Linked DNA regions of Homo sapiens. The protein of the gene in region 6 purifies or fractionates together with the protein of the main gene of each other region. This does not show direct contact. Each region holds a gene or a part of one and is shown on either strand. Other genes may lie near its edges.

Region 1 (3,904 bases), on a different chromosome or scaffold from region 6:
GAGGATTTCAGCATGGGGATTTGGGGAGGACACAGACATTCAGACCAGAGCAGCGTTACTTTCCTTGGGTGCCTTCCACAGTATTATATCCCAAGGGGACATCCCATAGATTCTTTTAGGTTACTCACCAGTAAAGCTCTTTAGTCGTTTAAACTCTATTTGGTGACTTTTTCCTCGTGTAGTAAAAACCTGTGTGCCATTTTCTCTGCGTTTCATAAATTCCTATCTCCTTCTTTTAACCTGAAAGACAGAGTGCTTTTCACAGGTGCAGCAGCTCTTGGGTAACTGGCTGCATCTCGAGGCTGAGGCCCACGTTTTTACCCCAGCTTGAGGCTGAGGTGGGCTCTGTGCTCCTGGTGCTGCCAAGCCCTTGCCTGCTATCCACAGGCCTGAGGTGCAGGCCTCCCTCAGACAGTGACGGGTTACACATGGGGTCCCTGATGCCACTCAGACCCCTGGCACTCCACACTGCCCTTGGGGCTGCTCTGAACTTCTCCTTGCCTTGTGAGTGGTCAACACTGCCCAGTGCAAGTGAGGCTGGAAGGCTTTGGGGACCTCCAAGTTTTCAGTAACCCTGTGTTACCCCAAGGGAATTGTTTTGCCCACAGATTTTAGCAGGTTGGAGCTTTCAATCTGTCCTGTTTTGGGGGTTTGTGGCTTAGATGCTGGGATGAGAGAAGCCACCTAAATCCAAAGGAAGGAGTTTGCAGCGTGTTGCATCAGCCAGCCAGCAGACACCCAGCTGTCATTTGCATTCTCAGCAACAAAAGCCTTGGCCCCTCATGACTATGGGTGTCACCTGCCCTGTGTGGCCCAGGGCCAGGTGGAAGCCATCCATGACTGAGTAAAATCAGAGTAGCATCCTGCTCTGCTCTCCTGTTTGCAAGGTTAGGAGTTGGCTGAAAACCAGCTGAAGAGTGGCAAGTGTGAATGCTGTTTGTTGAAGGCTGATGGGATGGTTTTCAGCCATTGGAGTTCTGGTGTGGGCACAGCAGGGACAGTTGCTGGCAAGATGGGTGTGTGTCCTGCCCTGACAGTCACGTGCCTGACAGGCTCTAGACCTAGCAGGGCCACTCAAGGATTTACTGTCCCCTTGGCCATGGGAGATGGGAGAGGGACAGTCTTCCTGTGCAGCTGAGCACTGCAGTGTAGGGGAGAAAGAACTCTATTTCTCCCCTTTTAGGGCCCCAGGCTGGGCGGGAGAATTAAACTGACATAAGCTAAACTAACAGGGTCAGGTGCAGTGGTTCATGCCTGTAATCCCAGCAACTTGGGAGGCTGAGGTGTAGGAGGATTGCTTGAGGCTAGGAGTTCGAGACCAGCCTGGGTAACATAGTGAGACCACCATCTGTACAAAAATTAATAAATTAGCCAGGTATGGTGTTGCATCTGTGGTCCCAGCTACTTGGGAGGCTGAGGTGGGAGGATCACTTAAGCCCAAGAGGTTGAGGCTGCAGTGAACTGTGATGGCACCACTGCACTCCAACATGGGTGACAGAGTGAGGCCCTATCTCAAAAAAAAAAAAAAAAAAAAAATAAAGGGAGATGGGTTAATGGGAGAAAAAACATAGGATTTTTTTTTTTTGAGATGGAGTCTTGCTCTGTTGCCCAGGCTGGAGTGCAGTGGTGCGATCTTGCCTCACTGCATCCTCCACCTCCTTGGTTCAAGTGGTTCTCCTGCCTCAGCCTCCCGAGTAACTGCGACTACAGGTGTGCACCACCACGCCTGGCTAATCTTGTATTTTTAGTGGAGATGGGGTTTCACCATGTTGGCCAGGCTGGTCTTGAACTCCTGACCTCAAGTGATCCAACCACCTCGGCCTCCCAAAGTGCTGGGATTACAGGTGTGAGCCACCGTGTCCAGCCAGGCATATTAATTTAACACAAGTTTTATACAGCACAGGCTCCCTTATAATGAAATGAAGACTCAAAGTGGCAAAATTAAATCACTTATATACTGACTTGGACAAAGACTAGCCACTTGTAAAAAAGCAACTACATGATGTGGGGATGCTTGAAAGAGTTGTTTTCACAAGGTCTGTACCAAATTCTGTCGGCCTTGACTTCCTGTCGTCCTTGATGATAAAATCATTTTATTTGATATGGGGAGGGCGTCTTTCACTTGGGAATTTCATTTGCTTTTAAGAAGCAGAATGGAGGTCAGGGTGATCTTGCACTGTTTTTTGATTTTTTTTAAAAAAGGCCTTGCTCTGTTGGCCCAGGCTGGAGTGCAGTGGTATGGTCATAGCTCACTGCAGCCTCAAACTCCTGGGCTCAAGCGATCGTCTTACCTCAGCCTCCCGAGTTGCTGGGACCATAGGTGTGCACCACTATGCCTGGCTAATGTTTTTGATTTTTAGTAGAGACAGGTTTTCACTGTTGCCCAGGCTAGTCTCGAACTCCTGGGCTCAAGCAATCCTCCCACCTCAGCCTCCCAAAGTACTGTGATTACAGGCATGAGGCACCGTGCCAGGCCTCTTCTGTTATTGTTTTTTTTTTTGTTTTTTGTTTTTTTTTGGCTCACCGCAACCTCTGCCTCCCAGGTTCAAGCGATTCTCCTGCTTCAGCCTCCCAAGTAGCTGGGACTACAGGCGTGCGCCACCACGCCCAGCTAATTTTTATATTTGTAGTAGAGATGGGGTTTCAGCAGGTTGGCCAGGATGGTCTTAATCTCCGGACCTCATGTTCTGTCTGCCTCAGCCTCCCAAAGTGCTGGGATTATAGGCGTGAGCCCCCGTGCCTGGCTTTTTTTTTTTTTTTTTTTTTTTTTGAGATGGAGTCTCGCTCTGTCGCCCAGGCTGGAGTGCAGTAGCATGAACTCGGGCTCACTGCAACCTCCGCCTCCTGGATTCAAGTGATTCACCTGCCTCAGCCTCCCGATTAGCTGGGATTACAGGCGTGCCACCACGCCTGGCTCATTTTTGTATTTTTAGTAGAGACGGGGTTTCACCATGTTGGTCAGGCTGGTCTTGAACTCCTGACCTCATGATCCGCCCGCCTTGGCCTCCTGGAGTGCTGGGATTACAAGCGTGAGCCACTGTGCCTGGCCTAATAGTCGATGTGCCTGAGCAGCATGTTTTGGAGTGGCATGTTCTTAACTCCTTCAAGAGCAAACAGGTTCCCCTTCCCCTGGGGAGGGTGGGTGAGGACACAGGTCTTTTCCTGCCACCCGTTTGCAGGGACACGTGATGGACCGTAGGAAGAAGGCACTGACCGACTACAAGAAGCTGCGGGCCTTCTTTGTGGAGGAGGAGGAGCATTTCCTGCAGGAGGCTGAGAAGGAGGAGGGGCTCCCTGAGGACGAGCTGGCTGACCCCACTGAGCGGTTCAGGTCACTGCTGCAGGCGGTCTCGGAGCTGGAGAAGAAGCATCGCAACCTGGGCCTCAGCATGCTGCTGCAGGTGCGGGAGCCCCGCTGGGTCTGCCCACCATCGGGCCAGGGTGGACGCAGGCAGCAGCGAGCCATTGGGGGACCATTGCCCGAAGTCAAGGCTTAAAAGCCCAGCCTGACTCCCACTGCCGTGGCCTTGCAGGGCTGAATTTCGGGAATGGGTGGGTGGTCAGGGAAGGTGATGGGAAGGGGTTTTAAGTTGAGGAGGGTCTGAGGTGTCCCTGACCTTCACAAAGGAGGGCACTTGGCATCCCGAGTGCCCGAGCATGGAAGGCTCCTGCCTCGCCCTGGGGTCCTGAAGGCAGAAGCAGCCAAGAAACCCAACCTCAGGGCTTTTCTTCTGCCTCTGCCCAGGGCCTGGCCTGAACCCCAGACCCTGCAGCAACCCAGATGGCCCTGAACGGTTCAGTTGCCCGTGCCAGCCATAGGTGACAAGGCTTTGGCCCTGGGGAGACGGAAGTCTGGGCCAGGCCCTGGGTTTGTTGTGCTCAGGACAGTACCTCATGCGCTGTC
Region 2 (4,251 bases), on a different chromosome or scaffold from region 6:
CCAGCTAATTTTTGTATTTTTAGTAGAGACAGGGTTTCACCATGTTGGCCAGGCCGGTTTCGAACTCCTGACCTCAAGTGATCCTCTTGCCTCAGCCTCCCAAAGTGCTGGGATTACAGGCATGAGCCACCGTGCCCTGCCTATTTCTGTAACTTTTGATAAGTCATTTGATCTGTTGTTGTTGTTTTCTCATAGTAACAAAGTAGAAGTAATTTTCTGCCTGCTTTACTAGATAAATTAAGGGGAAAAAAATAAGATACGTAAAAATGTTATTTGTTATTAAAAAGAAAGTTGTTATTTTAAAGGTTCTATAAAGACATAGAGTGCTTATTAGAAATTGAGCTAACACATTCAGGAAAGGATAGGAAGAGTTTGCTGAAGTTCTTTCTTTAGGGATTCTTGTGTACCGATAGCACAGTTAAAGAGCAAACTCATACCATTTTTATATTTCTGTGTATTTGACTAAGCTTACTGGCTTCAATGATTAACTGTTATCCCAAATATGGATTATCTTTCAGCCAACTCAGGGAATCACAGCTACTGAGTAGTGTGTGTCAGATCTCTTGGGTGTGCTGGAGTGAGTAAAAGGGGAATGAATTACTGTGTTCATGCTGAGACTTAATTGAACGGGTATTCAGTTGATCTAGGTGATGGGCACTTTGTTACTTTTATTGTAACAAATTTGTATATTTAGTTGCTTTAAAACTTTATTTCATGCTTTCATTAGGCCTTGTGAAAAAGGGTAAAGAACAAAACACACAGCGAAGCTTTTTTCTCAGAATGAAGTGTACCCTAACTAGCCGAGGAAGAACTATGAACATAAAGTCTGCAACATGGAAGGTAAGTGAAAATTATTTGTGATTGATTATACACTTTATTTATACATAGACATTGTAGTATTAAGATAACTTTAGAATTGTGAGGGAAGGTTTACAGTTCCATGGTGTTTGGTTATGTAACATTTATATCTTCAACTCATTTGCATGTGATCTCCAAAATGCAGAACCGTGTAGTAATTTGCCAATTTGAGGCACAAACTTAAATTACGTGAATTGTGGCACTGGTGTTCCAGGCTTAATCAGTTGGCTTTGCCAGCCACACAATATTTGAATCCTGATAGGGCTTAATTTTCTATTAATCATGGTTTTATATCTTTGTTCAATGTTGAAACATAGTCATCAGTGCAAGAAATAACTATCAAACAGCCATGATGATGAGATGAATGAAAAAGCAGCCTAGACTTTATACGAGGGGAATTTTTTAAAGAGTAATGTATAGGCCCTGGGCAGGAAGTAGGTCATAGGTGGTATCATAGGAAAAATGTTCATTGATTTTCAAAAACGTGATTAATCCACTAGTGACAGTAAATTTTATCAAAGCTTACTGGCCATGTCAGACTCAACTACTTATCTCTGCTTTTTTTTTCCCTAGCATTGTAAATATTTTTTTTAACTGCTTTGTTCTTCATACACAGGTATTGCACTGCACAGGCCACATTCACGTATATGATACCAACAGTAACCAACCTCAGTGTGGGTATAAGAAACCACCTATGACCTGCTTGGTGCTGATTTGTGAACCCATTCCTCACCCATCAAATATTGAAATTCCTTTAGATAGCAAGACTTTCCTCAGTCGACACAGCCTGGATATGAAATTTTCTTATTGTGATGAAAGGTAAATTAGATCTAAAATGTGAATTTGAAATTTTTAATTAGTCTACAGCATTACTGAATATTCACCATAGCAAAGATTCAGCGCTGGCCATGCATGGTGGCTCACACCTGTAATCCCAGCACTTTGGAAGGCTGAGGCAAGCGGGGGGTGGATCATCTGAGGTCAGGAGATTGAGACCAGCCTGGCCAATGTGGTGAAACCCCATCTCTACTAAAAAATACAAAAATTAGTGGGACGTGGTGGCAGGCACTACTCAGGAGGCTGAGGCAGGAGAATCGCTTGAACCTGGGAGGTGGATGTTGTGGTGAGCTGAGCTCACACCACCACACTGCAAGCCTGGATGACAGAGCAAGACTCCCATTTCAAAAAAAAAAAAAAAAATTACTCAATGTTAAACTATACTTTCCACTAAATTGAACAGAATGATACATCCTATAATATTAGATTAACTTTGTAAATTAATTCAGCCACATTTATTGAACATTTACTCTGTACTATGAACACTTACTTTACTAGGTGCTATCCAGAAGTTAAGATGAGTCTTTTTTTCCCCAATAGGGGCTCTACTTACTTAGAGAATTTCAAAGATATGCAGTGTGTATTTTGAGCAAAGATAGATTACCTTAGGTTGGGGACTAGAAAGCCAAGTGTTTGTACATCTCTTCATCCTACATATTTTCCCTGAGAAGCTTCAACCTTGCCCATGGTTTCTATTACTATTTCCCACATTTCTTCCTGTAACTAATTCTATTTAATTGCCAACTTAATATTTCTATCTGGATATTCTTCTGTATTGTAAACTAAGTATTACTGTAACAACTGTACTACTACTGCCCCCAAACAACATCATCATCAAAAACTGCCTTTCTTCCTATAATGCTTATTGTGGTTTAATACACCACCATACACACATGACTCCAGCAAAACTTTGGAAGTCATCTGTAACTTTTCTTTTACATTCATTGGCTACATACAGTTGGTGTCTAAATCTTACAGATTTACTATCTACATATATCTCTTGATCCATTTCCTCCTTTCCATCCTTGCACTCCTGCCATTGAATTCATTAGCTCATTATTACTCTTGACTTGAGTTGTTGGCATAGCTGCCTTTTTGCCAACAGATTTGTACCCTTATAATCTTTCATCTAAGTTGCCAGAAAGTGGGTGTCCTAATGTGAAAATCAGATCATGTCATTCTGTTGTTGAAAATGCCTCAAATGCTTCCCTCCATCTTTGCACACAAAAATATTTTGTTTATAAAAATACTAGATGAGGGAAGTAAATTTTTCATTTATCAAAAGAAGATGTGTATTTTAGAAGACTGAAAAAAAATAGACCTACACAATACAATCTAAACTTAGCATGGCAAACAAAGATATTTATGCTCTGGCCCTAACTCTGTCTTTGGAATCAGATGTTAGATTCACTCATGGCTTGCAGCTCTGATACTTACAATGTGGCCTTGGCCTTGGTACTTAACTGTTGTAAAATTCACATTCCTTATCTATAAAATAAGAATCATGGCTGGGTGGGGTGGCTCATGCCTATAATCCTAGCACTGTGGGAGGCCGAGGTGGGTGGATCACCTGAGGTCAGGAGTTTGAAACCAGCCTGGCCAACATGGTAAAACCCCATCTCTACTAAAAATACAAAAATTAGCTGGGTATGGGGGCACATGTCCGTAATCCCAGCTACTTGGGAGGCTGAGGTAGGAGAATTGCTTGAATCCAGGAGGCGGAGGTTGCAGTGAACCAAGCTTGCACCACTGCACTCCGGCCTGGGAGACGGAGTGAGACTCCATCTCAAAAAACAAAAACAAAACAAAAAAAAGACCTCAGAAGGATGTTGTCAGGATTAAAGGAGTCCATTGAGTGCCTAGTACAGATAGTGAATGCTTCACTACTGGTGTCAACTTTAAGAAAATGAATATAGAAAAGCTAAGAATTATTTTAAGGTGTTTACTACTAGCATGTAAATGTATGATGGGACAGAGATTTCCATCCTATTTTGAGGAATTATTTTTTATTTTTTTGAAAACTTAAGGTAACAAAGTAGAGAGGAGGCCAGGGAGAAAGGAAGGTAGTGGAGCAAAAATGAGAAAGGGAGTGACATTCCCCTCTAGTTATAGCAGAAAATTAGCAAAATGATCATGACAGGAGGTAACAGTAAAGACAGCCAGCTCATATATCAACCAAGACAGTTTTGAGTTTGACCAGCAGACTGTTATTTTCTGGTTTAGAGCTCTTTCCAGGAACTTCTTGCATCTATAACCCCTGAGAACCAAGCTATGGAAAAAATTTTGCTCAATTTTAAGAAAATCTAACATATCAAGCTCCTCAACTCCAAAATATTCCACAAATAGCTGCTATTTACTATACTGAGTAATAATCATTTAAAATTATTCAACACTTTATTTGAGCATCTACTATGTTCATGGCACTAAAGTAGAAATGAAGATGAACAGTTCCTGCCTCAAAATAAATGAGTAGTATACTGCTTTAGATCATGGGTTTCCTAGTCCATTAAAAACACTTTTTGGTCATATTTTCTGGACACCCCGACCCTTTTGGTA
Region 3 (4,251 bases), on a different chromosome or scaffold from region 6:
CCATTTGTTGAAAGGACTATTCCGGCCGGGTGCGGTGGCTCACACCTGTAATCCCAGCACTTTGGGAGGCTGAGGCAGGTGGATCACGAGGTCAGGAGTTCGAGACTAGCCTGGCCAACATAGTGGAACCCTATCTCTACTAAAAATACAAAAATTAGCCGGGCGTTGTGACAGGCGCCTGTAGTCCAGGTACTCAGGAGGCTGAGGCAGGAAAATCACTTGAACCCAGGAGGCGGAGGTTGCAGTGAGCCAAGATTGCACCACTGCACTCCAGCCTAGATGACAGAGCGAGACTCCATCTCAAAAAAAAAAAGAAAAAAGAAAAGAAAGGACTATTCCTTCTCACAGTCTGTGGCATGTAGCAAGAAAAGACAAGACAAGACAGTTCTCCCCCACTGAATGGTCTTTGCACCCTTGTCAAGAATCAGGTGACCATGAACTCTCAACTCTATTCCACTGGGTTTATTTCTGGACTCTCAATTCTATGCCACTGATCTACACATTTATCCTTATACCAGTACCACACTGTCTTTTTATTTTTATTTTTTTGAAATGGAATCTCGCTCTGTCCCCCAGGCTGGAGTGCAATAGCACGATCTCGACTCACTGCAACCTCCACCTCCTGGGTTCAAGGGATTCTTGTGCCTCAGCCCTCCCAAGCAGCTTGGACTACAAGTGTGCACCCCCACGCCCGGTTAATTTTTGTATTTTTGGTAGAGACAAGATTTCGCCATGTTGCCCAGGCTGGTCTCGAACTCCTGTCCTCAAGTGATCTGCCTGCCTTGGCCTCCCAAAGTGTTGGGATTATAGGCATAAGCCACGGTGCCTGGTGACGTTGTCTTGATTAGTTGTTTTATAGTATGTCTTGAAATCACAAAGCGTGAGTCTTTCTGCTTTGTTCTTTTTCAAGATTTAGCTATTGTGGGTCCCTTGCGATTCCATAGGAATTTATGAATTGACTTGTCAATTTCTTTTTTTTTTTTGAGATGGAGTTTCGCTCTTGTTGCCCAAGCTGGAGTGCAGTGGCGCGTGATCTCAGCTCACCGCAAGCTCCGCCTCCCAGGTTCAAGCGATTCCCTGCCTCAGCCTCCCGAGTACCTGGGATTACAGGTATGTGCCACCACACCCGGCTAATTTTGTAGTTTTAGTAGAGACAGGGTTTCTCCATGTTGGCCAGGCTGGTCTTGAACTCCTGACCTCAGGTGATCCGCCTGCCTCGGCCTCCCAAAGTGCTGGGATTACAGGCATGAGCCACTACGCCTGGAGACTTGTCAATTTCTACAATGAAATAAACTGGGATTCTGACAGGGATTATGTCAAACGTGTAGATCAATTTCCAAAATACTGCCAATTTGACAACGTTATGTCTTATGATCCATGAACAAGAGCTATTTTCTATTTATTTATTTATTTATATCTTCTTTCTTTTAAAAATGTTTTACAGGCCAGGCACGGTGGCTCACACCTGTAATCCCAGCACTTTGAGGGGCCAACATGGGAGGTTGCTTGAGGTCAGGTTCAAGACCAGCCTGGGTAACACAGGGAGACTCTGTCTCTACAAGAAATTAAAAAACAAACAAACAAAAAAAAAAAGCTAGGGATGATCGCGCATGCCTGTGGTCTGAGCTGCTTGGGAGGCTGATATAGGAGGATCACTTAAGCCTGGAAGGTCTAGGCTGCACTGAGATATGATTGCACCACTGCACTTGTTCTCACTTCAGTGCAAGTCCGAGAAAAAAAAAAATCAATTAATTAAATATTTTAAAAGGCCAGGCTGGGCGCACTAGCTCACGCCTGTAATCCCAGGACTTTCAGAGGCTGAGGCGGGTGGATCACCTGAGGTCAGGAGTTCGAGACCAGCCTGGCCAACATGGTGAAACCCCCTCTATACTAAAAATACAAAAATTAGCCAGGCATGGTGGTGCACACCTGTAGCTCCAGCTACTCCGGAGGCTGAGGCAGGAGAATCGCTTTAACCTGGGAGGCAGAGGTTGCAGTGAGCCGAGATCGCGCCACCGCATTCCAGCCTGGACGACAGAGTGAGACTCCGTTTCAAAAAAAATTAATTTAAAAAACAAAACCAAAAATGTTTTACAGCTTTTAGAGTATAAGTTTTATACTTTCTTTTACTAAACTGTCAGAGGATGGAAAAAAAGATACCTCTTTTGTTATAAGTATTTTTATTTTTTAGGTTATTGTAAATGGAATTTTCTTAATTTCCTTTTCAGATTGTTCATTCCAAGTGGATACATTTACAACTAAGTTTTGTGTAATGATCTTGTATCCTATAACCTTACTAAACTAATAATTTATTAGTTCCAATACTTTGGTAGTGGATTCCTCAGGGTCTATATGCAAGATCATGTCATCTGCAGAGATGATCTTACTTGTTCCCTTCCAACATAGATGTATTTTATTGCATTTTCTTGCCTAATTGCCCTGGCTAGAACCTCCAGTACAATGCTGAATAGCAGTAGTGAAAGTAGACTTATCTCTCTTTTTCCTAATCTTAAGGATAAGCATACAGTCTTTCACTATTTTGTTTGTTTGTTTGTTTGTTTTGAGCTCTGTCGCCCAGCCTATTGTGTGCAGTAGTGCTATCTCAGCTCACTGCAACCTCTGCCTCCCAGGTTCAAGCAATCCTCCCACCTCAGCCTCCCAAGTAGCTACAATTATAGGTATGCACCACCACACCTGGCTAATTTTTTTTTGTATTTGTAGTAGAGACAGGGTTTCACCATGTTGGCCAGGCTGTTCTTGAACTCCTGACCTCAAGTGATCCCTCCAACCTTGGCCTCCTAAAGTGTTAGGATTACAGGCGTGAGCCACTGTGCCTGGCCTCAGTCTCACTATTATGAAGTTAGCTGTGGGTTTTTCATAACTGCTGTGTATCAGGTTGAGGAACTGCTCTTCTCTTCTTAGTTTATTTAGTGTTTTTATCATGAAAAACATGCTGAATTTTGTCAAATGCTTTTTCTGTGTCTACTGAGATGACAAGGTGATTTTTGTTTTTTATTCTATTGATATAATGCATTACATTATTTACACTAATTCATTTTTGGATGTTAAACCAACCTTGCACTCCTGGAATAAATCCTGCTTGTTTATGGTATATAATTATTTTTATATGTTACTGGATTCAGTTTGCTAGTATTTTTGTTGAGGATTTTTGCTTCCACATTTGTAAGATATATTTGTCTATGGTTTTCTTTTCTTGTAATGTCTTTTCCTGGTTTTTGGCAACAGGGTAATACCAGTCTCATAAAATTCGTTTGTAAGTATTTTCTCCTCTTTTTCATTTTTGAAGACTTTGTGAAGAACTGTATTAATTTTTCTTGAAATGTTTGATAGAATTCAGTGGTGAAGTTATCAGGACCTCTAGTAGGTACAGGCCTGGGCTTTGCTTTGCTTTTCTTTCTTCTTTTTTTTTTTTTTTGAGATGGAGTCTCACTTTGTCACCCAGGCTGGAGTGCAGTGGCGCAATCTCAGCTCACTGCAACCTCCAACTTCCCGGGTTCAAGCGATTCTCCTGCCTCAGCCTCTCGAGTAGCTGGGACTACAGGCGCACTCCACCATGCTCGGCTAATTTTTGTATTTTTAGTAGAGATGGGGTTTCACCATATTAGACAGGCTGGTCTTGAACTCCTGACCTCGTGATCTGCCCACCTTGGCTTCCCAAAGTGCTGGGATTACAGGCATGAGCCACTGCACCCAGCCTCTTTTCTTTTTTTTAAGAGACAGGGTCTCACTCTGTCACCCTGGCTGAAGCACTGTGGCACAATCATAGCTCACTGCCTCCTCAACCTCCTGGGATCAAGTGATCCTCACACCTTAACCTCCTGAGTAGCTGGGACTCCAGGCTCACACCACCACGCCTAGCTGAGTTTAGATATAGTATGTATATTTTAGAGTTGGGGTCTCTCTATGTTGCCCAGGTTGGTCTCAAGCTCCTGGCCTCAAAGGATCCTCCTGCCTTGACCTCCCAAAGTGCTGAGATTACAGGCAACAGCCACTGTGCCCAGGTCTCTCTCTCTCTCTCTCTCTCTAATTATTTATTTATTTTTTAAGGGTATACTATCCTACCCAAACTTATATTTTTAAATTCCATTAGACTCATATTACCAAGCATATAAACAAATCACACATAACACGAAATAGAAAAAAACATTAAGACTTCCTTTGCTTTTGGAAAACAACTGAGAAACAACAAAATTCTTTTCAGAAATACAGAAAAAAATTGTTTTTATAGTG
Region 4 (4,251 bases), 7.3 Mb from region 6:
TAGAAAGTAAAATTCAGAAGTCGGGAAATGAATGAGTCCAAAGCATACACCCTGTAGTGGGCAGAGGAGGGAGGGTAGGGAGCGAGGAGAACCAGACCCAGTCACAATCACCCACTCACAGGATTCTAGGCCCAGCCTTGTTCTTATCCTCCGTGCAAGGGGAAATGACTCTTACCCCAGAGAACAGGAGTTCTGTGGGATTTACCCAGTCCCACTGTTCCCCTTCTCTGCCTTATTTGGAGTCTTGGATGGGCAGAGGGAGCCCCTTTCCATCCCCGTCACCCCTCCTTCTTTGCTTTTACACATATTTATTGAGCATCTAATAATTCTGTGAGCAACTACCCTCCCCATTACAGACTACCCCTTCTGGGTGGGGGAATAGGTTCAGAGAACCTCAGATAGCTCCAATCTTAATGTTCTTTTCAAAGAAAACCTCTGTCATTTCAGAATTGCTTTTTTCTTTTCAGTAAGAGAAAAAAGGAAAATGAAACATTTTTGAGAAAGGTACACATTTTGAGCTCTTATTGACTAGGTGCTAAATGGCCACAGTCAAATTGGTAAAAATGACTATTTCCAGCCATTAGTTTTGTGACTTTTCAACCACAGATGCATGCTTTATATTTATAATCAATGATTTTTAAACAAAGAAAATAACTTCTGTAAACCAACTGGTTTTCCCATCTTTATGCATCTTGATGGTGTTGGTCAGAATTTTTAGAGAGTCAGCTTATCTTTTATGTGTGCAGAAGGTTTTGAAAATTTTTAAAAATTTCAAAGCAATGTAATATTTCTTTCAGAGTTTTATATATTTACTATCTAAGTTGCTTTCCTCTAATTGTGTTTGCTCTCCTTACTTGGCAATGTAAACATGAATTTTCAGATTTGTTTCCAGCTCCATGTAAAGTCTCCAAAAGTAAATTTGTTGAAAATGTTTCTAGCCACTAATTTCTATATTGATGATTTTGTGCACCATAGTGTGAATTTATAATTTTGCAAATATGTTTAAAGCATTTTGTTTGCTTTCTACATCATTTGGCCTTTAGTGTATTTTCAATGACACTTTGCACTTTTCTGAGCCACATTCTCACATATGCCCTCTGGTTTGTTTTTATCTTTACTCATCTTTGCTGAGACCTTCTTCTTAAAGACATATGAAACTTGCAGGAGTATAGAGCGATGGTTAGGGGCATGGACTTTGGAGTCATAAATACCTGAGTTAGAATCCATTTTCACTATTCACTAACTGAGTATTCTTGGAAATGTCACCTAACCCTGGTTTCTTCATCTAGAAATTGAGGATAATAATACCTTGTGCACAAGTTGTGAGAACTAAATGAGAGACCATGTGTACCGTGCCCTACCCAGTCCCTGTATGAAGTAAATGCTCATTAATGTTGATAGCTGTCATTAAAGGGGCCTCTATTTTTCTGTTTTGGGCTATTCTGTAAAAAAAAAAAAAAAAGCTTTAAAGTTTTCAGGCGGGGCGCGGTGGCTCACGTCTGTAATCCCAGCACTCTGGGAGGCTGAGGCGGGTGAATCACCTGAGGTCAGGAGTTTGAGACCAGCCTGACCAACGTGGTGAAACACCATTTCTACTAAAAATACAAAATTAGCCAGATGTGGTGACGCATGTCTGTAATCCCAGCTACTTGGAAGGCTGAGACAAGAGAATCGCTTGAACTCAGGAGGTGGAGGTTGCAGTGAGCTGAGATCACGCCACTGCACTCCAGTCTGGGCAACAAGAATGAAACTCCATCTCAAAAAAAAAAAAGTTTTTCAGTATGATTGTACATTGGAATATGAAGTTAAAAGATGTGAAATACTTGGCTACATCATGTCTTACTAATTAAATACTCATGTAGTCAGAGCCATTATTGTGCCTTTCATCTTGAGCTATATCACTTAGATGATGCAGTGATCTTATTTTTACTAATCATTGTTAGTTAGTAGTAATTAAATTGTCAAAACCAGTGGCAGGAATAGTTATCTGTGACTGGTTGTTTATAGTCAGACAGATGCTTGCAGTGAAACTGCTTCTTGATCTTCTCGTGTCTGCCCTTGCCCTCACTGCACCCACCTCACCTGAACTTGTCAAGGACAGTGTCTGCCTTCTTCTTTCTGTCCTGGACCCTGGCATGCCTATTACATTGTCCTGACCTGCATCCCAGGCAGGGCCCATAAAACAAGAAGTGAGACAGAATACAACATGAAGGAAGACTTCAGCTTGGAGCCTCACTCTCTGAGAGGACCAGTCTCAGTTTTAAGTATTTACTGAGCCCCCATTTTACTGTAAAATACTGAAGTAGGCATTCTATGCTGTATGGATGATAAACAGAAATAAAACCTAAACTCTGATTGGAAAAGTGAGGTATAGGACAAGCATGAAAAAGTACAAGCATGGAAACACCAACAAATACAATAATAATAATAATAATAATAATAATAGTGTCCATAAGTCAGTAGATTAAATCTCTAGGTGCCCATTTTACATATTCATAACATGCCATGTAGCTACATACATAATGTAGTCAGAAGGGGGAGGGGACTTGATTTTTGAATTTTATTTTGTTTTCCTTAGATGCTGCTTAATTCTATCTAGTTAAGGAAGAGAATTGGACAGAATTCAGGAGAGGAAAAGTGGGTGAAGGAGTTTGTGGAGTTTTAGCACGGCACCCTGTGATCACCTCTCCACAAGCATTTACACCTTTCTCTGTATGGGCATCAGATGAGATTGATAACTGAGCTGGGGAAATTGGGAGGGAAAGGCTTCATGAGCCAATGCGAGATGCAGAGCTGATCTCTGTTCCAGCATGAACACCAGCCTCTCCATTCTGTGTCTGTTTGCATTGAGACAAAGCAAGAAGGTTTCCTATGATCAAACGCATATCCTTGTGTTGCCAGGGACACCACGATCATCAACCACTCACGGAATGGCAGCTACGGAGAGAGCTCGCTGGAGGCCCACATCTGGCAAGAGGAGGAGGAGGTGGTGCAGGCCAACAGAAGGTGTCAGGACATGGAATACACGTAAGGGACGACTATGTGTGACGTGTGGGGCCCGCTGCATTCACACTCCAGGCCTTCCAGAACAGATTGCTTCTCTGTCCTGTTCTGAAAGGCTGTGAGCATGAGGTCTCCAAAAACTCTCCTCCCCCATGCTGTGCCATGGAGAGAAGGAAAAGGTTCCAACCTAAGCACGTGGTTCCACTCAGCAATGGATCTGGTGCCGGAGTTCTCTGGGGGAAATTGCGTGTCACCTGCCGGTTTTAAGATGCAGGCTGAGTCTAGTGACAGAAGAATTTAGATGTCTGTGTTATTTCTTGGTGTCTATCTCTATGACATTATGAGCTGAAAGGGGGAAACATTATATCCCAAAGATTCAGAGTTTTTGAGCCAGAATTTATATATTCCAGTCCAAAATAAAGAACATATTTAGCTAATGCACTCTTCTGATGGGCTACACAAAATTTCCAGCAGACTTTTTGACATAATAAAACTAGCCTGTCCCCCTTCACTACCTAAGGGCTTGTGGAACCCTGGGAGCCCTAGGCCTCTTATTTTGCAGATGTGAAAATAGGGCTGAGTAGTTGAGCCATTGATAGATAGGCTCAGTGAGTTACTATCAAAGTTGTGAAAATAACTCAGCATTCTTCCAGAAAAATCATCTTCTACCAGAGAACCTGTTCATCTTGGTTCTTTTTTCTTAGAAAATAGAGAAATTGACTTTAGCTGAAAGCTCACCCTGTTTGAGGCTTTAGAGTTTTTATGCTTCCCTATCCCCTACCTACCCCCGGCCCCCACCGCCAATGCTAGACCCTCTAAATATGGTCCCCAGCCGACTTCGGTCCAGGAATGTGGCCACGGTCATTCTAACTGTACCTCGCTGAAGTCCCAGTCTCCCAAGGTGCCAGAGAAGGTGTACTCTTTTGACATATGACAAAAGACCTGTCTTAACAATTTGGAGATTATCAACATTTGAAGACTCGTACTGTGCTTCATCCTGTATCCCTAAATTACAATTAAAGTCTTTGGGACAGCCTGAGATAAATGTTTCAAGTTTTTCTAGCCAAGTGGCTTTTTATGGAGACTGTTTTGTTTTGTTTTACAGTATTAAAAATCTCCATGCCAAAATCATAGAGAAAGATGCTATGATTAAGGTCCTGCAGCAGCGATCTCGTAAAGATGCCGGGAAGACAGACTCCTCCAGCCTACGTCCTGCCCGCTCCGTTCCATCCATAGCAGCAGCTACTG
Region 5 (4,251 bases), on a different chromosome or scaffold from region 6:
TAATTATTCAGGGGAAATGGGGAAGGTGGGGTTGTGTAAATCACCACCCTCTTGGGGAGGTTTGATTTTGCTGGGGGTGGGGGCGGGGGGCGGGGAGTAACTTATTTAACTCGGTGCCAAGTGTACAAATGAGAAAAGAAGGACAGGTGGGCAAAGTGGGTCAACCACTATCTGGCACCTGGTCAGTCCTTCCGGGACTGTTCACTCCTCCCTCCAACACTGACTATGCATTGCAACAACATTCTGGACTGGGAGAGAGACAGGACAGCAAGCAGAGGAACCTCGAGTCCAGGAACATGCAGCCTTGTCCCCAGCAAACCTGCACCAGGAATTGAAGCTCAGTGTTCTCCTCTTGCACTAAACCCCTTACTGAGTCCTTTAAGCAGAGGCAATCAGATAGGGGAGGCAGGTACTTCCACTGGGGCCCTGCAGGAGGGGAGGCTGGTCTGGGCCAGGGTCTCAGCCTCAAACAGCGTTTAGACAGGTCACCATCTCTAGGCCCCACAGTGGGACCCATGTGGTCACAGGTAGCCTCACCATCCCCACACCTGCCCCAAGGCAAGGACCAACCACGAGGCAGGTGATAAAACCCAGGCTGTAGGGCATAGGAAGAGAATTCCCAGGAATATAAAAGAGCTGGCTCATAGGACCACTGAGTGACCGATAGGAGGCAGGATGGGCAGGGGAGGCCACCCCTTCCTTGTGGCTCTGAGTCAAAGGGCCAGAAGAGATGAGGGTCCCTGGGACTCTCAGCTCAGCCCATCCAAGCTTCCTATTTTACAGATGGGAAAATGAGGGCCCAGGGAGAGGCACAGACTTACACATGGTTGGGTCTCAAGTGGGCTGAAGCCACTGGTTCTGTCTGGATCGTCCAATCCACAGAACACTAGTAATCTTCCAAGACCCCCAGGCAGGGAGCATGTCAGCTGACAAGGCCACTCAGGCCCAGCAGGTGATGTGTCTGCATATTTATCAGGTGGGGAGCAGGGGAAAGATGGGGATAAGCTGTAAAAAGTTTCCAGTTTCTAATAGGACTTCTAACAGGTAACTCTGGGTCCTCTTGGAAAGTCCATCAGAAAAGGTTAGAGCTAGAACTGCCCACACCCCGAAGGAAAGCCCAACCTAGGGACTTCAGGGACAGTAGAAGAGGCTTCAAAGACCCCACCGGCCCTGGCCTTGCTCACTGCCCCAGTGCTTGTCCTGGGTCCCCACTCATCCATCACCCCAGCTGAACCCAAGGTGCAGGCAAATGCCCACCGCATGACTTTGCTCGGCTCTTCTTTTTGTTTTGGTTTCGTTTGGTTTTGGTTTTGGTTTGTTTTGTTTTGAGATGAGTCTTGCTCTGTGGCCCAGGCTGGAGTGCAGTGGCGCGATGGCTCACTGCAACCTCTGCCTCCTGGGTTCAAGAGATTCTCCTGCCTACCAAATAGCTGGCATTACAGGCGCGTGCCACCACACCTGGTTAATTTTTGTATTTTTAGTAGAGATGGGGTTTCACTATGTTGGCTAGGCTGGTCTTGAACTCCTGACCTCAGGTGATCCGCCCAGCTCAGCTGTTCTTTCTGCGAAGCCTGGTCTCTCTTCTTACCTGCTCTCTTCTGCTTTTACTAACTCCATCTTCAAGGCCCATCTCAGTTCCCAATTCGGCCACCCCTCCTCTGAGCTCCCAGCACACCTGAAGAGGTTAAGAGCCCAACCTGGGCATTTCCTTGAGGGAAAGGGGCATGATGAATAATCACACCCACAGGGCAAGGGAACCGGGACATACCGGCTGGCACAGGCTCCGGGTTCAACTGGACGGGAGTCCCTGACCTGGCCCAGCCCCACCCTGCCCCTGCTGTAACTTGCCTCACCATCCTGGGCCTGTTCCTTAGATGAAACAGGGACCCCAATGGGGACCAGCAACTGTTGTGGGAGGCGAGTGAGAGAAAACCCAGTTGCTGTCAGCACAGTGCCAGGCACACGTTTGTTCCATCCAAAAGACTTTCAGAACCTGCCACTCTGTGCCAAGGCTGGGAGTCAAGAGGACCAGAGTCCCAGGCTCATAAACTCCCAGATGAAGAGACAGTAATGACAGAGGGCCCCAGGTGGGCAGGGAGGGCTCCAGCACCCATGTGGCTGGCCCTGGGGTGGGCCCCTGTCTTTCTCAAGTCTCTTAGTGCCTTAGGACTCTGTGAAGTTTGCTCAGGGGTTTCCGGCTCTCCCGGGCCTGGCATTTGTTCCACTCTCAGATACCATCAGCCGCAGACACAGTCTACTCAAGGGCTTTTCCAGGGGCAGAGAGGGGAAGACCTGCCAGCAAATGTCCACATGGGTTCTAAGACACGCCCCATATTACAACTGGGAAGGGAAAATGCCCAGCTTTGAACTGAGGAAATGGCAGAATGTCTCTGCCGTTGAGGAATCAGGAAGAAGGAAAGGGAATCAGACCCTCGCTTCCTCCCCAGGGCCATCTACTGTAGTTAAACATGCTCCACGCCTCTGTTTGAACAGTACACATAAGGCAAACCCAAGAACACTTACAGGCAGTCAATACAATCCTGATCTTTCTGCTCTGCTCCCCTCAAGAGCTGGAGGTCAGCGGTGACCTGCTGAAGAACAGGCACCCATCCCCGGCTGACCCGGCTCCAGGCCTGCCCAGAACCCTCTGCCTGTGAGGACAGGGGATGTATGAGTGTCCAATCCTGGGTGCTTGCCTAGGGGAGGGGGACCATTTCTGACATGTTATGATCAAAGAAGCATCAAGTCCCTTTAGCAGACAAGTTTGTTCCTCTATCCCCAAGCCTTTGGGGATGCCAATAGAGTCTCTTGTTGTTATGTAGCAGGGAGATGAGAATTCTGAACCCCAGAGTGGTCCCTGCCTAGATCCCAGACGCTGATCCCAACCACCCTAGATGTAGGGATGGGAGTAGCGGGGAGCAGCATCAGCGCTGGGGATGGAGGGCACAGCAGCCACCTGGGAGCGGCAGCATCTCCCACAGGCGCTGTCCTGCCTGAGCCCCACCCAAGAGCTCAGGACGCCTGCCCTAGAGGACAGAGGTCATGAGAAGGCAGATAGCAGCTGAGAGCAGGACTTTGGAGCAGACTCACCAGGTCTGGAACCTACAGAAGGCTCTCTCCTGTGGCCACTCTCCTGGCCAGAACCTCCTCCCGATGGAAGCCCTCAGCTTCCACCCACTGCTCCCCCAGCCCAGCCCACACCACAGTGGTCACCAGAGTGATGCTCCAGAACCACCACCCCCCAAGCCAGACTCCAAGAATCACTGCTCAGGAGGCACTCAGACCTCAGAGGCAGTAAATGCTCAGTGAAGTCCGCAGACGCTTCCCTTCCTCCTGAAGAGCAAATTACCACCTGTGAGGTCAAGTCCCGCTTCCCACCTGGCTCTGGGTTCAACCAGATTGGATTGAACACACACATTCAAAGCTGGGCATTTTCCCTTCCCAGTTGTAATGTGGGGCGTGTCTTAGAACCCACATCTCAACCAGATTCCCAGAGCTGTCTGGGGTGTCCACAAGCCCCATCCTCAGTGGATTCAGGAATGCCCCTTCTCAGTGTCCACGCAACCTCCCCTGACACAGCGCTCCCCAGCCCTGGAGGCAACACAGGCCACCTGGGCCACTCTTGCTTGTGGGCACTGAAGTCTGAAAAGCTGGGACTTTGGGGTCTGCCCTGTGGGGCTGCCCACAGCACTAACCCCCCTAAGAGTTATCTCCCCACACACATCCTGGGTCCACCTTGCAGGCCCCGGATTCTCAATGCCATGCTCCAGACCCCACTTCCAAACCTTAGCCATTCTTATTCCTGCCTGGAATGCTGGCTCCCTCCATTCAACTAGATGAGGACTCAGCTGCCTCCGACCCTACACTGGGTACCAGCGTGTGTCAGGGGATCTCCCACTCCCACCCAGGGAAGGCAAATCCGCAGAGGCCAGGAAATAATGAAAGGACATGGAACCCATCCTTTAAGGCCCAGTTCTAGGATCGAGACATTATTAGCCTCAGGATATAGATGAAGAAACTGAGGCTTAGAGGTTCAGTAAGCTGCCACGGCCATAAAGCAGGTGGCAAAGCCAAGATTCACCCAGGGCTCTCTGACCCTGGAGGCAGATCACTAACCAGAGGGCTACATGCCCCTCGGCATGCGGGGTGCCGAGCGCTGCAGCGGGAGATGGGGCCTTCGCACATCAGGGGCTGCCACCCGCCAGAGGCTACACGTATCACTCACTACACACCCTCCTCCCTCAACCCAAA
Region 6 (4,251 bases):
CCTGGAACCAATCCTTGACCACAGATGCTAAGGAATGACTATTCATTTTTCAAAGTTTCCAGTGATTCTTCCTTTGTGAAGAAATGTTTCTCTTAAAGGTATTGATATATGTAGATGGATTAATGAAGGGTATATACCTTCCAACCCCAGTCACCTCAATTCACCCCTGTCAACTATGGGCCTGTAAGGAAGATAAACCAGGCTAAAATAAATAAATCTCAAATTATGTCATAGGAGAAAAGGTTGCAAGGGTAGAGAGATATTTACCCGGAAAAGAAAAAACTGGGAGGAGGAGAGATAAGACATGATTGTTGTTTCAGTGTTTCTGGGGAACTTTTATGTGGGAGTAGGATTAGTCTTACTATATAAGAAATGTGAGGAATTTTGATTCCATGGAAGAATTTTCTTATATAAAACTTTTAAGAACTAGAAGAGTTTTCCTGGACAGGTAAATCTTGCTCAATAAATGTAGGTAAAATCATGGTTACTTGGTATCTGTCAGGGATTCTATGGAGGCCCCTAAACATTGGATGTGGGAGAAGAATGCTGTGGGCTTATAAAATTTTGTATTTTAAAGAGTATCTGCTTTATGAACATTATGCAATTTGGAGAAAAGTTATGAAATAAGATTATTTCACCTTCTCCAGTTAGCTACTTCCATGATGTTATGGACCGTATAGTTGTTACAACTTCTTTTTGTGTACTGAACAGACAAATGAGATTAATATCCTAACCATTAGTCAAAGATGATGATAAACTAAGCTTTTGGTGCCAAGTTTCTGTTGTCAAAGTTCATTTTTATCCTAGTTTTGATGTTTTAAAATAGGGCTGTCTTTGTAATCAATATTTATATACTTTCCTCTTGTATCTAAAGAGGAGTGTTGTTGTCATCAGATGTAGAATGAAGATTTAAATTAGTTGCCTTACACTTGTTTCCGCAATGAAACATTTTATTTTAATGCATCTTTTTAGATATTTGTTGGAACTGACTTTTAAGTTACAAAGTCTATAACTTATTGAGATTTATATTTGGCATGAAGAACCTGACTATAAATGGTCCAGACAGGCAAGACGATGTAATTTGAGAAAAAACTTAGAAATGTTAAGAAACAACCCAGTTGTTGGCCTTGTGACCATAGATGATTGAGTTTTTGAAGTTAGTTGGCCTATCATCTAGTTTCCAGGCAGCATGATTACTGAAAGATTATAAGCAGGCAATCATTCGTTGTTTTAAAGCCCTCCTTAGGTCAGTGAGATCTTGTGGAGGAGACTCATACCTTACTTTGGCAAGTGATACGGTGGAAGTATGGTGCTAGTTACATTTATCAGTGGCTTGTTTTCAAGCTCTGGGATGAATGTGAAGTATGTAAACAAGGCTTAGCCATATAATATTTGTTCTACTACATTTACTATTCAAAACTATTTTCTTTACCATCGTATTGAGCTTTCATTTTAAAAGAATTCATTCTCTTTATGACTCTGAGAGTTATTACCTTCTTCAGCTGTCTTACGGTTTTCCTACAGGAAATAGTTCTTCAAGTAGTTGGTCAACAACTTCCTATTTCTTTATAAGCTGCTGAATAACTTCCTGACTCAGTATTCTATAATATCTCTGGTTTCAAGGAGTGTTTTACTTGCAAGTTTATTTTATTGACTCTGATGCCTTATAACTATTACCATGTTCAAAGATATGTGTTCTTATATATAATGTACCATGTAGGACCTTATAATTTGATTTAAGGAATCTGGATCAGTGATTTTAAAAGTTTGTACATTTGCATTGTTTTAATAATGTTCTAATAATTTTTAAAGCACAGTTTTGTTTCATTTCCATTGTTTATCATTTTCTGAATAACTGGCCACAATGTTTTTAGTCTGCGAAGATTCAAGGTTTTTTGTGGCTGTGATTTGATTAAGTTATATTGAGTAGCTTGGTATACAATTTAAAAAGGATATGTTTTTCAGAGATTTTTGACATTGCATGGCATAAAACTACCCATATTCCTATATTAATTTGCCTTGTAGATGTGATTGATCGCTATACATAGGCTGATTCTTTTTTCTTTCTTTCCTTTTTTTTTTTTTTTTGAGACAGAGTCTTGCTCTGTTGACCAGGCTGGAGTGCAGTGGCACGATCTCAACTCACTGCAACCTCTGCCTCCTGGGTTCGCGTGATTCTCCTGCCCCATCTCTACAAAAATACAAAAATTAGCCGGGTGTGTTGGCGCACACCTATTGTCCCAGCTAATCAGGAGACTGAGGCAGGAGAATTGCTTGAACCTGGCAGGTGGAGGCTGCAGTGAGTTGAGATTGCACCACTCCACACCAGCCTGGGCGACAGAGCCAGACTCTATCTCAAAAAAAAAAAAGACTATGAACATATACAGTGTATGTTGTTATCATATACAGTGTACCTGGTATTTATACATTGTATACAGAACATATACAGTGTATCTTCATAATAAAGATTATGCCTCTTTAAAAGGAAGTTTCATGAAGAATAAGGCTATACTGTTTCTTTCTGTATCAAGTATAACCCAGAGTTTCCCTTTAAAACTGAAAAGCTTGTAATTTTGCCATTAAATGTTAAGTTGCACACGTGCACATGTATACACAAACAAAAAACCAGTTCAAATTGCAATCACGAAGTATTTCCCTATTTGAGGGAAGGCCAGTCTCTGCTTGTTTGTCTTGCTATTGAGGCTGAGTGGAGAGAGAAGATGAAAGTACGCCCTTAGCTCTGGGGGGTGGGGGAGAGCTTACTTCTGCTCAGTGGGTGGGCATCCCAGGGAAGAATGGCACACAGTGCCACAGTGATTTAGGGAGAGAACCCTGGAGAAACTGTATTCACCAGTGGCAGAAGAAAAACAGTTGGAAGATAGTAGATGTGACAGAGTAAATAGAACATAGAGATTAACATATTCCCTGGGAAAAATAATGGAATTTTTTTAGTGTGAACTAAGAAAGAAGTTCACTAGAACTTCTTTGCATTATTTAATTAATTTGCAGCATCATTCAAAGAACAGACTGTCACTTGGTGTGTTTAAAAATTATGATTCTTAGTTCTAGAAAGAATTCTAGAACTATCTCTGGAAGTTTAAATGTAGCAGACTCAATTGACTGCAAGGTGGTAGGCTAATTTTCTTTTTAAAGTCACATTTAAAAAAAAATACCCTTTCCTAAAGCTTTATCTTAGCCATTAAAAAAAAACCCAAACATCTAGATAGCATTTAAATAGTTGAAACTTGGAAAAAAAAAAAACCCAGGTTTTTACAACCCTAAAATAAGTCCTCTTTAGTTATGTAGAGAAATATTTTACTTTGTAGTTAGAAAAATAATGTGAATTCACAGCTTAAAATACTCAGGGTATCATGACTCTGCATTGCCTTGTACCTTAAGGCTTTGAGGGGAGGTAAACTCTAAACTGTTTTATTGCCAAAATATATATAGAAATTTAAGCTTAGGACCAATCAAAGTGAAGTCATTTTAAAAATCAGTTGCTAAGATTTAAGATTATTCAAACTTAATGCTACCCTCTGTAATAGCATAATTTAGCCATTAATTGTGGCTTGAAAGTTTTTAATAATAGCTGAGTAGCATTGTATAAAGGGAGGTCTTAAAGAGCTGTGTCGTTCTATAACTGTGGTTACTAGGTGATGCACTTCTTACAAAAAGGGCTTCTGATTCTAGGATTAATCAGAACTACAAGCCATGAAAGGGACATTGCCGTTTCTATGAAGAAGAATTGCTTCATGGTTCTGGTTGCTCAAGTGCTGTAGCACCAAGTTTCCTGGGAACAAGTACTGCCACCGTGGAAGCACTTTTATTTACGTAGGGCTTGACCCCTTCTAAATGCAAACAAAGAAGTTTGGTTTAAATCACAGCAGTCCTCCCCACCTCCCCTTTAATATTCTAGACAAGGAAAATGGTCAGTATTTAATCCTCATTTTGCTCCTAGCATGAGAAGAATCATAATTTTTAAACACACCAACCAAGTGATAGTCTGTTGTTTCTTTGAATGATGTTGCAAATTAATAAAATAGTGCAAATGGCAGTATCTATTATTTGGGTTTTCTTCTACCAGATATTTTCAGTGCTTTATTTGTGGTTAGTGCCATTACTTCATGTGCTGTCACTTTAATTTGTCTCTCTATCTCTTTATGGGATGTTAGTCACTCGACTATCAAGTTCTTCAGCAGGATTCTCAGTTGGGGGTGGGTGAGGGGACATTTTATTAAAAGCTCCTTCCTT
Region 7 (4,251 bases), on a different chromosome or scaffold from region 6:
CTAATAGAGGTAAAAATCAGAATATCAATGACAATTTGACATTATTTTTAATCTTTTCTTTTCTAAATAGTTGAATAATTTAGAGGACGCTGTCCTTTTTGTCCTAAAAAAAGGGACAGATATTTAAGTTCTATTTATTTATAAAATCTTGGACTCTTATTCTAATGGTTCATTATTTTTATAGAGCTGTAGGCATGGTTCTTTATTTAATTTTTTAAAGTTATTTTTAATTTTTGTGGATACAGAGTAGGTATACATATTTACGGGGTATATGAGATATTTTGATATAAGTATACAACATATATAATCCCTTTATTTAATTTTATCTTCCCCCCAATGATCTAAAACTATTTGCTTGTCCTTTTATGTCTTATAGTTAAATTCAGTCACCAACTAAGTTGAAGTTACTTCTTATTTTTGCATAGCTCCAGCTCTGATCTTCATCTCATGTTTTTGCCTGAGCCTCTGTTTTCATATTACTTAGTTGGTTCTGGGAGCATACTTTAATAGCCGAGTCAAGAAAAATACTAGCTGCCCCGTCACCCACACTCCTCACCTGCTAGTCAACAGCAAATCAACACAACAGGAAATAAAATGAAAATAATAGACATTATGCATGCTCTCTAGAAACTGTCAATTGAACTGTATTTGCTCATCATTCCTACCATCTACACCACCAAAATCAACCAAATTTATGAAAAAAAACAGCCCCAACATAAAATTATACACAGATAAACAGGCTATGATTGGTTTTGGGAAAGAAGTCACCTTTACCTGATTTAGGCAACTGTGAAATGACTAGAGAATGAAGAAAATTAGACGTTTACATCTTGTCATAGAGTTTGAAGATAGTGCTGGATCTTTCTTTTTATAAGTAAGATCAATAAAAACTCCCTCATTCTGTAGAAGTTATGATTTCTTTTCTAAGAGACCTTTAGAAGTCAGAAAAAATGTGTTTCAATTGAGAAAAAAGATAACTGGAGTTTGTGTAGTACTTCCCAGATTATAAAATGCTTTTGTATGTATTATCTAATTTAATCCTCAAAACTTCTTCAATTTAGCATGTTGTCATGACACTGCAGAGGCTGAAGCTCAGAGAGGCTGAGCCCTCTGCTAACAAGTCCTACTGCTAACAAGTGATAAAGCCAGAGCTGGAAGTCACATCTGGACTCCAAACCTGATGCTTCTCAGCCTGTTGCCCCTTTTAGAGTTCCTTTTTAATTTCTGCTTTTATGACTTGCTAGATTTCTACCTACCACACACACTCTTAAATGGATAATTCTGCCCTAAGGATAAGTGATTACCATTTGGTTCAGAACTAGAACTAATGAATTTTAAAAATTATTTCTGTATGTCCATTTTGAATTTTCTTATGAGAAATAGTATTTGCCTAGTGTTTTCATATAAAATATCGCATGATAATACCATTTTGATTGGCGATTTTCTTTTTAGGGCAGTAGCTCGCCTGAGCCAGAGATTTCCCAAAGCTGAGTTTGCAGAAGTTTCCAAGTTAGTGACAGATCTTACCAAAGTCCACACGGAATGCTGCCATGGAGATCTGCTTGAATGTGCTGATGACAGGGTAAAGAGTCGTCGATATGCTTTTTGGTAGCTTGCATGCTCAAGTTGGTAGAATGGATGCGTTTGGTATCATTGGTGATAGCTGACAGTGGGTTGAGATTGTCTTCTGTGCTTTCGTCTGTCCTATCTTCAATCTTTCCCTGCCTATGGTGGTGGTACCTTTCTGTTTTTAACCTGGCTATAAATTACCAGATAAACCCATTCACTGATTTGTAACTCCTTTCAGTCATGCTCTAACTGTAAATGAAGGCTTAAACTGAAGTAGAACAGTTACAAGGTTTTACTTGGCAGAACATCTTGCAAGGTAGATGTCTAAGAAGATTTTTTTTTCTTTTTTTAAGACAGAGTTTCGCTCTTGTTTCCCAGGCTGGGGTGCAATGGTGTGATCTTGGCTCAGCGCAACCTCTGCCTCCTGGGTTCAAGTGATTCTCATGCCTCAGCCTCCCAAGTAGCTGGGATTACAGGCATGCGCCACCACACCTGGCTAATTTTGTATTTTTAGTAGAGGCGGGGTTTCACCATATTGTCCAGACTGGTCTCGAACTCCTGACCTCAGGTGATCCACCCGCCTTGGCCTCCCAAAGTGCTGGGATTACAGGCATGAGCCACCTTGCCCAGCCTAAGAAGATTTTTTGAGGGAGGTAGGTGGACTTGGAGAAGGTCACTACTTGAAGAGATTTTTGGAAATGATGTATTTTTCTTCTCTATATTCCTTCCCTTAATTAACTCTGTTTGTTAGATGTGCAAATATTTGGAATGATATCTCTTTTCTCAAAACTTATAATATTTTCTTTCTCCCTTTCTTCAAGATTAAACTTATGGGCAAATACTAGAATCCTAATCTCTCATGGCACTTTCTGGAAAATTTAAGGCGGTTATTTTATATATGTAAGCAGGGCCTATGACTATGATCTTGACTCATTTTTCAAAAATCTTCTATATTTTATTTAGTTATTTGGTTTCAAAAGGCCTGCACTTAATTTTGGGGGATTATTTGGAAAAACAGCATTGAGTTTTAATGAAAAAAACTTAAATGCCCTAACAGTAGAAACATAAAATTAATAAATAACTGAGCTGAGCACCTGCTACTGATTAGTCTATTTTAATTAAGTGGGAATGTTTTTGTAGTCCTATCTACATCTCCAGGTTTAGGAGCAAACAGAGTATGTTCATAGAAGGAATATGTGTATGGTCTTAGAATACAATGAATATGTTCTGCCAACTTAATAAAGGTCTGAGGAGAAAGTGTAGCAATGTCAATTCGTGTTGAACAATTTCCACCAACTTACTTATAGGCGGACCTTGCCAAGTATATCTGTGAAAATCAAGATTCGATCTCCAGTAAACTGAAGGAATGCTGTGAAAAACCTCTGTTGGAAAAATCCCACTGCATTGCCGAAGTGGAAAATGATGAGATGCCTGCTGACTTGCCTTCATTAGCTGCTGATTTTGTTGAAAGTAAGGATGTTTGCAAAAACTATGCTGAGGCAAAGGATGTCTTCCTGGGCATGTAAGTAGATAAGAAATTATTCTTTTATAGCTTTGGCATGACCTCACAACTTAGGAGGATAGCCTAGGCTTTTCTGTGGAGTTGCTACAATTTCCCTGCTGCCCAGAATGTTTCTTCATCCTTCCCTTTCCCAGGCTTTAACAATTTTTGAAATAGTTAATTAGTTGAATACATTGTCATAAAATAATACATGTTCATGGCAAAGCTCAACATTCCTTACTCCTTAGGGGTATTTCTGAAAATACGTCTAGAAACATTTTGTGTATATATAAATTATGTATACTTCAGTCATTCATTCCAAGTGTATTTCTTGAACATCTATAATATATGTGTGTGACTATGTATTGCCTGTCTATCTAACTAATCTAATCTAATCTAGTCTATCTATCTAATCTATGCAATGATAGCAAAGAAGTATAAAAAGAAATATAGAGTCTGACACCAGGTGCTTTATATTTGGTGAAAAGACCAGAAGTTCAGTATAATGGCAATATGGTAGGCAACTCAATTACAAAATAAATGTTTACATATTGTCAGAAGTTGTGGTGATAAACTGCATTTTTGTTGTTGGATTATGATAATGCACTAAATAATATTTCCTAAAATTATGTACCCTACAAGATTTCACTCATACAGAGAAGAAAGAGAATATTTTAAGAACATATCTCTGCCCATCTATTTATCAGAATCCTTTTGAGATGTAGTTTAAATCAAACAAAATGTTAATAAAAATAACAAGTATCATTCATCAAAGACTTCATATGTGCCAAGCAGTGTGTGCTTTGTGTAGATTATGTCATATAGTTCTCATAATCCACCTTCCGAGACAGATACTATTTATTTTTTGAGACAGAGTTTTACTCTTGTTGCCCAGGCTGGAGTGCAATGGTGCCATCTCGGCTCACCACAACCTCCGCCTCCCAGGTTCAAGCGATTCTCCTGCCTCAGCCTCCTGGGATTACAGGCATGCACCACCATGCCTGGCTAATTTTGTATTTTTAGTAGAGATGGGGTTTCACCATGTTGGTCAGACTGGTCTCAAACTCCTGACCTCTGGTGATATGCCTGCCTCAGCCTCCTAAAGTGCTGGGATTACAGGCATGAGCCACTGTGCCCAGCCGACAGATACTATTATTATTTCCATTCTACCGAGAAGGAGA

The links.
Region 1: the proteins of YAP1 (region 6) and RNF187 purify together in Homo sapiens (affinity purification with western blotting; 3 studies listed by BioGRID, with this or other methods). This does not show direct contact.
Region 2: the proteins of YAP1 (region 6) and HIF1A purify together in Homo sapiens (affinity purification with western blotting; 3 studies listed by BioGRID and IntAct, with this or other methods). This does not show direct contact.
Region 3: the proteins of YAP1 (region 6) and NF2 purify together in Homo sapiens (affinity purification with mass spectrometry; 7 studies listed by BioGRID and IntAct, with this or other methods). This does not show direct contact.
Region 4: the proteins of YAP1 (region 6) and AMOTL1 purify together in Homo sapiens (affinity purification with mass spectrometry; 8 studies listed by BioGRID and IntAct, with this or other methods). This does not show direct contact.
Region 5: the proteins of YAP1 (region 6) and CCDC85C purify together in Homo sapiens (affinity purification with mass spectrometry; 5 studies listed by BioGRID and IntAct, with this or other methods). This does not show direct contact.
Region 7: the proteins of YAP1 (region 6) and ALB purify together in Homo sapiens (affinity purification with mass spectrometry, with the first as the bait; 3 studies listed by BioGRID). This does not show direct contact.

The regions. Positions count from the first base shown.
Region 1 is NC_000001.11:228,489,874-228,493,777, forward strand, and holds part of RNF187 (E3 ubiquitin-protein ligase RNF187), read left to right. Parts: intron 1-3,179; coding exon 3,180-3,401; intron 3,402-3,904.
Region 2 is NC_000014.9:61,725,979-61,730,229, forward strand, and holds part of HIF1A (hypoxia-inducible factor 1-alpha), read left to right. Parts: intron 1-727; coding exon 728-840; intron 841-1,474; coding exon 1,475-1,677; intron 1,678-4,251.
Region 3 is NC_000022.11:29,609,829-29,614,079, reverse strand, and holds part of NF2 (merlin), read right to left. Parts: intron 1-4,251. UniProt on the Homo sapiens protein: Probable regulator of the Hippo/SWH (Sav/Wts/Hpo) signaling pathway, a signaling pathway that plays a pivotal role in tumor suppression by restricting proliferation and promoting apoptosis.
Region 4 is NC_000011.10:94,861,834-94,866,084, forward strand, and holds part of AMOTL1 (angiomotin-like protein 1), read left to right. Parts: intron 1-2,901; coding exon 2,902-3,027; intron 3,028-4,108; coding exon 4,109-4,251. UniProt on the Homo sapiens protein: Inhibits the Wnt/beta-catenin signaling pathway, probably by recruiting CTNNB1 to recycling endosomes and hence preventing its translocation to the nucleus.
Region 5 is NC_000014.9:99,593,948-99,598,198, forward strand, and holds part of CCDC85C (coiled-coil domain-containing protein 85C), read right to left. Parts: intron 1-4,251. UniProt on the Homo sapiens protein: May play a role in cell-cell adhesion and epithelium development through its interaction with proteins of the beta-catenin family. May play an important role in cortical development, especially in the maintenance of radial glia.
Region 6 is NC_000011.10:102,116,394-102,120,644, forward strand, and holds part of YAP1 (transcriptional coactivator YAP1), read left to right. Parts: intron 1-4,251. UniProt on the Homo sapiens protein: Transcriptional regulator with dual roles as a coactivator and corepressor. Critical downstream regulatory target in the Hippo signaling pathway, crucial for organ size control and tumor suppression by restricting proliferation and promoting apoptosis.
Region 7 is NC_000004.12:73,410,544-73,414,794, forward strand, and holds part of ALB (albumin preproprotein), read left to right. Parts: intron 1-1,452; coding exon 1,453-1,582; intron 1,583-2,876; coding exon 2,877-3,091; intron 3,092-4,251. UniProt on the Homo sapiens protein: Binds water, Ca(2+), Na(+), K(+), fatty acids, hormones, bilirubin and drugs. Its main function is the regulation of the colloidal osmotic pressure of blood. Major zinc transporter in plasma, typically binds about 80% of all plasma zinc.